3 linked regions of the Homo sapiens genome follow. The protein of the gene in region 2 purifies or fractionates together with the protein of the main gene of each other region. This does not show direct contact. Each region holds a gene or a part of one and is shown on either strand. Other genes may lie near its edges. The genes, in order: RTCA, ZNF695 and PIGR.

Region 1 (3,756 bases), about 150 Mb from region 2:
CCCAGGTTACTTAAATGGAATGTTAAGTGATACATACCCTGCTGTCTTGGTATCTGCTGTGTGGATTCCACCTTTGATCTTCTCTGGTGTAAAGGTTATTTCTGTTGAGCCAATTTCTGCCCCCTCCAGTTGCCCATCACACAAATCTCGAATCATTTCCAGTCCAGATAAATGTTGAGGCCTTCAGGTCATAATACTGCATCAAAACGTGTGCATTCAGACTGCCTACATCCCCACATTTTATGACAAATTTATAAAACTGCAATGGCAAGAAAACAGCAAGGTCTAACCACAGTAAGTGCCACATCTTCAGTGTCAGCTTCCTTTTGGGTTTTTATGCACCTAGACTACCTGCTAGTATGTATCATTTTAACACTTCCTTGCAGACCAGTTATTTCTGACTATAAATACATACCCTGATATATTGCTGCAAATTAGAAGTGTGCTAAAGAAGAAAACTAATAGTTATTTCAGTGCCACCAGTCTCGCTTGCACTTGACTGAACAATCTATGGTGCCTGTATGGGCTGAACTATGTTCCCCCTAAATTAATATGCTGAGACTGTAACCCTCCGTATCTCAGAATGTGACTATATTTGGAGATAGAGCCTTTAAAGAGATAATTAAGTTAAAATAAGGCCACCATACAATCTTACTGGTGTCCTTATAAAAAAAAAAAAAACTAGAACATACAGAGACGCTAGGGGCAAGGTACACAGAGGAACCACCATGTGAAGAGGCAAAAAGACAGGCCTGGAGCAGATCCTTTTCTCATGGCTCTCAGAGGAAACCAACCTTGTCAGGACCTTGATCTTGGACTTCCAGCCTCCAGAACTGTGAGGAAATAAATTTCTGTTGTTTAAGCTCCACTCTGTGTGTGGCATTTTGTTATGGCAGCCCTAGCAAACTAATACAACACCTACAGCCTAATGAATTGGATTCCCCTGTTGGTGAACTGGAGGGCTGCAAACTATGACAAAGGCAATTAACATTAACATATCAGTAATTGCCTTTTGGTAATTTCAAAACTGTAGACAAAAGACTGAGACCGCTGATTTATTAAAATGTAATAAATACAGAATACATACAAAGCAATCAGTGTGGCTTCAAACCTGGGTCCTCTTCTAGCAGGTGCATGTACCTGAAGCTCAACTAGTGGCATGCCCAGCTACCCAGACAGAAGAAATAAGGTCAAATGTCAAGGTGTTTCCCTCTCCACAACAGATAATTCTGGTCATAACAGCTCTCTGGAGGTATGAATGAAGGCTGGGATAACACATCTCAGGATTCTTTCCTGTTTTATGATTCTAAAACTGACAGCAGAACCAGAATGCACTGGTTATAAAACAGGGTTTCCTCTGGCGTCACAAGCATTTCTGCCCTATCTATCTTGCCAGCTCATACGTGCTGTTCGGATATTTGGAATGCCCGGTGAGGTGAGAAAACATTTTAAAAGCTAGCTCTTCAGCAAATGACACTATTTAGTCAAACAGAGAAAACTCGAGACCATTTCTAAACTCACCCCTCCAGGCTTTCAAGACTTTACAACCCAGGCCACCGCCCAGGCAGAGTGCCCCGCCCTGGATCGCCCATACCTGCGTCTGGGACCTTCTGGGTTCCACCACTCGGACTCCCGATGCCCCAGCCCGGCAGCCCGACCCCCCGATCCCCCAGCTTCACGGCCCAACTCCCCCTCCAGCCAGATTTACCTCAGGCCTGGCGTGCTCCGGCCGGCTCGGATCTTCTGCACCCGCAAGGGGAGGCCTAGGAGACAGCTCAAGGCCGTAGAGACTCTCAGGATCTGGCCGCCCTGCAAAGGTTGGGGTACAGGGAGAAGAGAAGTAAGCACACCGGTGGTGAGAGCTCCCCTCCTTAGTTAGGCTGCAGCCCCGGCCGCTTCGCTCTGTACTCACCCCTTCCATGATGCTGCCATCGACCTCCACCCGCGGCCCCGCCATGGGGGACACCCTGGGGCCCAGCCCGCAGCGACAAAGCCTCCGCCAGAGCGGGAGAAAGAAGAGACGTTGGCTCCCGCCCAGTAGTTCAGAAACCTTGGTTCATGCCTGGGGCGCAGGAGCCTGACGAGAAAGCGGAAGAAGCGGCGCCTCTCGGGACACTGGAGTCAGCAGAAACGAACCCCCGGGTTCGCCCAGTTCCGCAGTCAGTGCGCATGCGCGTAGCTCGGCTTAAAGGAGCCGCGCTGGGAACACTGCGGTCGGGGCGAGGAAGCTGCCGGGGAAGTGAGATGACGGTCGCGGGGGTGCCCAGGAGCCCTGAAAAACTTGTGCCCTGGGCACGGCAAAATCTGCAGGTTGCAGAAAGTCTCAACTGTAAGATAACTCCTCCAGTTATCCCGCAGGCTTGTGCTTTATCTCTGTTTTGTGGGTAAATATGTGTTTATATCTGTTTTCTCGAGGATCCTGGCATACCCCGAGGTGCCGACTTTTAGAGCTGAAGATGCAAGAAAGATTGGGATCCTGCGATGCACCGAACCTGTCTCTCGAAGTGTGTGCGCCCTGGTACATTGATACTCTTGGCCTTTGGTTCCTTGCGGTGTGCGTGTTTGTGTATGCGGAGTGTGTTATCTTTCTTTCTAGGGTGACACACCATTTATTTGAGAGGCGGGAAAGGCAGAATCACTAGTTTAATATTCTGAAAAGCCAAAGTTATGCCATTTTGCTTGAGAGTGAGTGCAAGCTCTTGACTCCCAGGAACAGTGCAGCTAACAATTCACCTCAGGCGAGGGCAGAAGCAATAGCCAGCTTCTTGGTTCTGCCTGTGGCTCAGTTCCTACATAATTGAGTACCAAATAATATGTAAACCTCTAGGGAAGCAAAAAAGAGTAATTCAGCTTCTACCCCCGAAGTTATTGGAGGTATAATGGAGAGACTGAGACGTAATCAATTACAATGTCATCCTCAATAATAATTAACATGTACTGTATTTAGAGTTTATTATGGGGACAATTACAATATATTAATAATATACTGTAACAATAACAGGCAACACTTATTGAGCACTTAGGTGTTGTGCACTGCATGCATTCATAACATGATAAAGTACTTACTGTTTTTACTGTTTTACAGCTTCCTGTGTTAAACAATTTGCTACAAGGTCACACAATTTTAACTAGAAGACTGAGATGTGAACCTGGGTGGTCTGATGTGAACACCACTGTCTGGTAATCCCAACGCTCTGCTGCTTTGCGACAGAGAATGTTTTAGGGAACACACAGACTATGTACTTAACCAAATCTGGAATTTGCCGTAAGATATTAATCAGAGAAGTAATGATACTTGCATTTTAAAATGAAGGCTTTGGCAGTAGGAGAAGGGTGAATAAGAGGCTTAAGAGCCTGAAGGGAGAAATGCCAATGATACAATTATCCAGCAAGAAATAATCAGAAGTTGAAGTAAGGCAATGATGGTAGGGATGGAATATAAAAAAGCTGTACCCCTATCTGACATCTTTATTGGGGGAACCCGCCCCCAATATTTCAACGTAGGTTCTTTCTATTTTCCATAAGTGTTGGCCAGCTGAGAAATAAAGAGAGACAGTATAAAGAGAGGAATTTTACAGCTGAGCCACCGGGGGTGACATCACATATCGGTAGGACCATGATGCCCGCCTGAGTCTCAGACCAGCAAGTTTTTATTAAGGGTTTCAAAAGGGGAGGGGGTGTAAGAACAGGGAGTAGGTACAAAAGTACAAAGATCACATGCTTCAAAAGGCAAAAAGACCTTACTACTAGTAAGGG
Region 2 (3,274 bases):
ATAAGTTTCATAAAATCATTATTATAATCCCTGAGAAGATCACATAAGAAATTCTTCATGAATTTTGGAACAAGAAAATTATACGTTAGCTCTAGCATGAGCAACATAAAAGTAAAAACAGGAATTTCATGTGGAAATTCTGCAAAATAAGATTTTAGAGAAATGCCTTCAATACAAAGCAGAGAAAACAGATTTGCCTTCGACATTTTTGAGGTTTCTAGTTTGCTAATAAATTATCCATACTTTTGAAATTATGTTTGGTTCCAACATTTTTCTCTTATTCTGAAAACAGGTATGCACTTACTTCAAACACATTACTTGCTTCATAACTGTCTTACACCTAACATTTATCCTTAGAGTAGTATATTTATGTATTTATCTCCATGTAAACCAAAACTAAAAGCATGTATATGTTTTGCAGGCCAGAAAAGCCACATGTTAAAAGGAAAATGTAAATAAAATTTTGTGAATAGTCCTTCAAGATTCAGAAATACACGGTCTTTGATTATAATCCTATATAGGCTTTATTATAGCCTTAATAATGACACTGTCATTACAAAAAGAGCAAACAGAATGAAGGTGTAACGTGTGGGAACAATATTTTTCAAATTATTTGAAGTTTAATGCCACTGGGAGAAGGGATCATTAGAGATACTATTCCACCATGTTACCCACTATTGTATTGTTACCATTTGTTACCTACAACCGTAACTAAGGTGAGATAGGTTAACGTTGGTGGTAGGATACGCATCACTTAATGTACAACGGTCCAAAGACATTAAAACAATGTCTTATTAAAACAAATTAAGTTCAAACAGTCTAAAAAGAGCATTTCAAAATCCACTGAATTTTATTACCTTAATGTGCAATAGGAAAAACAACTGACTTGTAAAACTCAAATGTTTCTTTCTTAAATATAATGCAGAATAGTACTCTGAAGACCTATCTCATGAATCACTTACAACCCTATTATAAGACAAGTACAAAGAGCCTCTCCAGTTAAATTTCTTCAGGAAGCTTACAATGCAATGTCCATAATCTTCCAAAGAAAAGGATATGAACAACACCCACCCGAATATAGAAGAAACTCTCACAGCTTTCATGTAGCAACAGTAGGCCTCATGCCTTCACATAAACACTAGAAATGAAGGCATGGTATCAAGTGATTTAAGACTTGAATTACATAAATATGTGATTTTCAAAAAAGCTAAAACTCTTTCAGTGCACCGAGTATACTTTATTATTATGTTGTTATTATTATTATTGAGAAAGGGTCTTGCTCTGTTGCCCAGGCAGGAGTGAAGTTGCCAGATAGCAGCTCACTGCATCCTCAACCTCCAGGCTCAAGCAATCCTCCCACCTGAGCCTTCCAAGTAGCTGGGACAACAGGCATGTGCCACCAAGCCTGGCTTTTATTTTACTTTTTGTAGAGATGAGGTTTTGCCATGTTGCCCAGCCTGGTCCCAAACTCCTGGGCTCAAGCAATCCCCCGACCTCGGCATCCAAAAGTGCAGCAACTATAGGAAAGAGCCACCGTGCCTGGCACCAAAAGGTATACTTGAAATGTAATTATAACTTCCCCAAAAGGTGAATCTCCTACTTACTTTAACTTAACTTTGAATTATTCTCTATAACCAACACTCAGATTTACAGTAATGTCTGAAAGTGTCAGTGACTTAGTGCTTTTTACTATGAATTCTTGGATGTGTTTTGATGTAATTTTTGATTAGACATTTTTTCACATTTACTGCATCTGTAAAACAGTTTTTAGTGTGAACACTCTGGTGTTTTCTGAGGTATATTTTTTGAACAAATGTTGTTTCTGCATTTATTACATTTGTAGGGTTTCTCTCCAATACAAAGTCTTTGAAATTGAATACAGTTTGAGCAACTGGAGGGTTTCCCTCCAGTATAAATTCTTCTGTGTACAGTAAGAGCTGTGATATAAGTGGAGGTGTTGAACCGGTCTATTTGTATTGTTCGTAGCCTAAACATTTTAGTGCACTCAAAGGCTCATAGACTGTAAATGGCCTTTTGACAGTCATTACATTTGTAACACTCTTATTCAGTAAAAATATTCTGCTGTGAAGTTGTGAATAGGTATTAAAGACTATGCCATATTGTTTAGAATTGTAGGGTTTTTCTCAGGTATGAGTTTTCTCATGTACAGCAAGTTGTGCAGAGTGGTTAAAGGCTTTGCCACATTCCTCACACTTGTATGGTTTCTCTCTGGTATGAATTGTCTTATGTTTAGAAAGGTGTGAGCTCTGGCCAAAGGCTTTGCCACATTCTTCACATTTGTAGGGTTTCTCTCCAGTATGAATTCTCTTATGATTAGTAAGATATGAAAACCAGTTAAAAGCTTTGCCACATTCATCACATTTGTAGGGTTTCTCTCCAGTATGAATTCTCTTATGTTGAGTAAGGTATGAAAACCAGGTAAAAGCTTTGCCACATTCCTCACATTTGTAGGGTTTCTGCCCAGTATGAATTCTCTTATGCTGAATAAGGTATGAGAACCAGGTAAAAGCTTTGCCACATTCCTCACATTTGTATGGTTTCTCACCAGTATGAATTCTCCTATGTTCAGTCAGATGTGAGCTCTGGTTAAAGGCTTTTCCACATTCTTCACATCGGAAGGTTTTCTCTCCAGTATGAATTCTTCTATGTTGAGTAAGGTATGACAACAATTTAAAGACTTTGCCACATTCTTCACACTTGTAGGGTTTCTCTCTACTATGAATTCTCTTGTGTTGAGTAAGGTATGGGAACAACTTAAAGGATTTGCCACATTCTTCACATTTGTATGGTTTCTCTCCAGTATGAATTTTCTTATGTTTAGTAAGAACTGAGCACAGGTTAAAAGCTTTGCCACATTCTTCACATCTGTAGGTTTTCTTTTCAGTATGATTTTTCTCAACAACAGCAAGACTTGAGCAAGACTTAAAAATGTTATTACATTCTTCACATTTGCAATGTTTCTCTCCAACATGAATTCTCTTACAGTCAGTAAAGCATGAGCACTCATTAAAGGCTTTGCCACATTTTTTACATTGGTACGGGTTCTCTCCAATATGGATTCTCTGCTGTTGAGTCATTATTAAAGACATGCAAGAGACATTGCCACATTCTTTGCATTTGAATGGTTTTTCTCCAGTATGGCTTATCTTACATTTATTTAGATTTGCAAATTTACTAAAACCTTTCACACATTTATTGCATTGAAAGTTTTTGCTATGAGTAGTTGCTGAGCATAGGTCAAGTCCATTATAAC
Region 3 (3,656 bases), about 40 Mb from region 2:
AGTGCTTTTAGAAATATAAGGAAATAACACATGGCAAGTGCAAACATGTAACACCTTACGAAAGTGGTGTTATTGTTTGAAAAAACAATGGATGGCTGGATGCTGGCTCACAGCTGTAATGCCAGCACTTTGGGAGGCCAAGGAGGGTGGATTGCTTGAGGTCAGTAGCTCAAGACCAGCCTGGCCAACATGGAGAAACCTTGTCTCTACTAAATAGAAACCAAAATTAGCTAGCATGCACCTGTAGTCCCAACTACTTGGGAGGCTGAGGCATGAGAATCGCTTGAACCTGGGAAGCGGAGGTTGCAGTGAGCCGAGATCGTGCCACTGCACACCAGCCTGGGCGACAGAGAGAGACTTTGTCTCAAAACAATAAAAATATATAAAATAAAAAACAAGGGTTATCATAAATTTGTCATTCCCTTGTCCTTGAAATGGTTATCATTAATGAATAACAATTCCAATTTAATCATGATTAAAACAGTCACTTTATTTAATCTCAGCAATTTTCCAGCTGTGATATATGATAAATTATCAACACAGGGCCTACGTGTCAGGTAGAAAACCACATCTACTCATAGTGGGTTATCTGGAACAGGCTTTACCTCCCAAGGGCCTCAGAAAGCCTCTCTCTTCTGTTCCCACAGCCATCTCCACGAAGAGTCCCATATTTGGTCCCGAGGAGGTGAATAGTGTGGAAGGTAACTCAGTGTCCATCACGTGCTACTACCCACCCACCTCTGTCAACCGGCACACCCGGAAGTACTGGTGCCGGCAGGGAGCTAGAGGTGGCTGCATAACCCTCATCTCCTCGGAGGGCTACGTCTCCAGCAAATATGCAGGCAGGGCTAACCTCACCAACTTCCCGGAGAACGGCACATTTGTGGTGAACATTGCCCAGCTGAGCCAGGATGACTCCGGGCGCTACAAGTGTGGCCTGGGCATCAATAGCCGAGGCCTGTCCTTTGATGTCAGCCTGGAGGTCAGCCAGGGTAAGGATCCAAGCTCCTTGGGCTTCTGGGGGAAAGTTAGAGGGAATTCTCTAAGGTGCATGGAGGGCTTGAGGAGGAACTTCCTGACAAGGATGTGTAGCCGGGTTGGGGGTCAGAAGGCACCCCTTTCCCCAGGCAAAGACTTCTTTAACAGGAGAAGGAGACAGATAGGGCCTACTTGGGGGTGATGAGTGAACCCTTCTAGGACTTGGTGGCCTATAACATTTTAGGCTTTCTGGAGACCCCAGCTTAGAAGGGTATCAGAAGGACAAGTTTTCTGGTGTTTGCTACAGGTAGAAAGGGAAATCTGACATCAGGCTAAGGAGATAGAAAAGGTAGGGAGAGATTTACAGGGATCCTTAAATTCCTATCATTAATGCACCTTTCCATCAAGGTTTGGGCCGCCAAAAGGCTTCTTGTAAAATGCATATTTTTTTTTTAACCTGGGAACCCTTAGTCTTTTGGTATTATCAGGGTAAATTAGATTATTAGATCTTGACCAAAGACCAAGATCCTGAAAGGATGGGTTGCTAACAAGCCTATTCTAGTTGGAGAAAGAGAAAAAAAGAAAAGCTCTTTCTGACAAGGGTTTAACAATGAGGCTGTTTTAGATAGTCAAGGGCAACTCAAAAGAGAGGTCTACGGAGAAAAGAAATTCAGGGGGACTCCCAAAGACATGTCTTGCTCCTTTGGAATATGCATACTATTGTCTGTGGACTAAATGAGGAGGTCATTTAGGTGGGGATCAAGATTCAAAACCACAGAATCTTTAGAGGTGAAGAGGGCTTAGAGTTCACCCTAACCGGACACTTAGAAGAACATGCTGATGACGGGTATGCAGCCTCTGATTAAGCACTTTAGCAGAAACTCACTGCTCCCTGAGACAGCCCATTTCACATTTAGACTCTTGTAATTTTTAGAAACTTCTATTGTATGCGTTGAAATCCATCACCCTGCATTTACATTCATTCTGTTCATTTCAGCACACATTAATTTGGCCACCTACTACCCAGAGGCATTGTGCTTGTCACAGCAGAGGGGTCAAACATGAGAAAAACATGTTCCAGCCTTCAAGGAACTTCCAGTCCATGGAGAACATAATTACCCATACACCAGATTGGATGTAATAAGTGATGCAGATGTATCAAGAAAGCACAGGGCAGGGAGAGATTAGTGTTAGCTTGGGAAAGGTTTCATGGAGAAGACCGCTGTCAAGCTGGGCCTTCCGACAGCATTCCTCTGGGAAGGAGGGCATTCCAGGTTATAAGTCCACCCACACCCTAACTAGGAATAGCAAATAGTCCTATGTTGCAAGAAAGTAGAATCGTAACTTGCCTGCCCCCTACCTTGCACCCCTCATCCTGCAGGTCCTGGGCTCCTAAATGACACTAAAGTCTACACAGTGGACCTGGGCAGAACGGTGACCATCAACTGCCCTTTCAAGACTGAGAATGCTCAAAAGAGGAAGTCCTTGTACAAGCAGATAGGCCTGTACCCTGTGCTGGTCATCGACTCCAGTGGTTATGTAAATCCCAACTATACAGGAAGAATACGCCTTGATATTCAGGGTACTGGCCAGTTACTGTTCAGCGTTGTCATCAACCAACTCAGGCTCAGCGATGCTGGGCAGTATCTCTGCCAGGCTGGGGATGATTCCAATAGTAATAAGAAGAATGCTGACCTCCAAGTGCTAAAGCCCGAGCCCGAGCTGGTTTATGAAGACCTGAGGGGCTCAGTGACCTTCCACTGTGCCCTGGGCCCTGAGGTGGCAAACGTGGCCAAATTTCTGTGCCGACAGAGCAGTGGGGAAAACTGTGACGTGGTCGTCAACACCCTGGGGAAGAGGGCCCCAGCCTTTGAGGGCAGGATCCTGCTCAACCCCCAGGACAAGGATGGCTCATTCAGTGTGGTGATCACAGGCCTGAGGAAGGAGGATGCAGGGCGCTACCTGTGTGGAGCCCATTCGGATGGTCAGCTGCAGGAAGGCTCGCCTATCCAGGCCTGGCAACTCTTCGTCAATGAGGGTAAGACCCTAGAGAGGGAGGGGGAGTAGGTGGGGCAGTCTCGCAGGTGAGAGCCAAGCTCAGCTCCCTCTGAGTGTATTCATCAATAGTCATCAATCAGCCAACAGCATCCACTCAATGACCAGCCCCGAACTGGAGGCTGCGTGGGCTGCTGCACAGGACAGCAAGAAAAAGCAACCTCTGCCTGATGGCAGCTCCTAATTACTCTTCTGTTATCAAAGTCATTTTGATGGCTGTCCCTGCTTAACAAGCAAGAGGTGAGTAAAGCTCTTGATTGAGGCAGGACTTATAGACTGTGTTTCAGGGCTGTGGCAGGCTCTGCAGGGGTCCTCTGTCCCCTCCCCTGGCCCCTGAACAAGATGGGTGCCTCATCCCTCACATTCAGATGGAAAAAGGATTGGCTTATCTTGGTCTCAATGCGTTCCCAGGAGTGCCCCAGCCTCTAAATGTTTCACTGTCACATTTCGTAGGGTTATTTGTGAATTTCAGCACCATCTGGCCCACTCAGCCCTACTCCAGTGAGCCATCAGCATGGTGAAAGAATTAAATCCCAGCTCCTTCTCATCCCAGAGCACCCTGCATAGAGTTGCCCTCGTGAGAAGCAGCAAACCAGTACTTGCAGTTCCAAGTATCTGTGCTT

The links.
Region 1: the proteins of ZNF695 (region 2) and RTCA purify together in Homo sapiens (affinity purification with mass spectrometry; one large-scale study listed by BioGRID and IntAct). This does not show direct contact.
Region 3: the proteins of ZNF695 (region 2) and PIGR purify together in Homo sapiens (affinity purification with mass spectrometry; one large-scale study listed by BioGRID and IntAct). This does not show direct contact.

The regions. Positions count from the first base shown.
Region 1 is NC_000001.11:100,264,577-100,268,332, reverse strand, and holds the start of RTCA (RNA 3'-terminal phosphate cyclase), read right to left. Parts: upstream 2,118-3,756; 5' UTR 1,958-2,117; coding exon 1,913-1,957; intron 1,810-1,912; coding exon 1,709-1,809; intron 834-1,708; coding exon of another isoform or gene 795-833; intron 182-794; coding exon 38-181; intron 1-37.
Region 2 is NC_000001.11:246,984,823-246,988,096, forward strand, and holds the end of ZNF695 (zinc finger protein 695), read right to left. Parts: coding exon 2,145-3,274; 3' UTR 501-2,144; downstream 1-500. UniProt on the Homo sapiens protein: May be involved in transcriptional regulation.
Region 3 is NC_000001.11:206,936,455-206,940,110, reverse strand, and holds part of PIGR (polymeric immunoglobulin receptor precursor), read left to right. Parts: intron 1-647; coding exon 648-992; intron 993-2,359; coding exon 2,360-3,016; intron 3,017-3,656.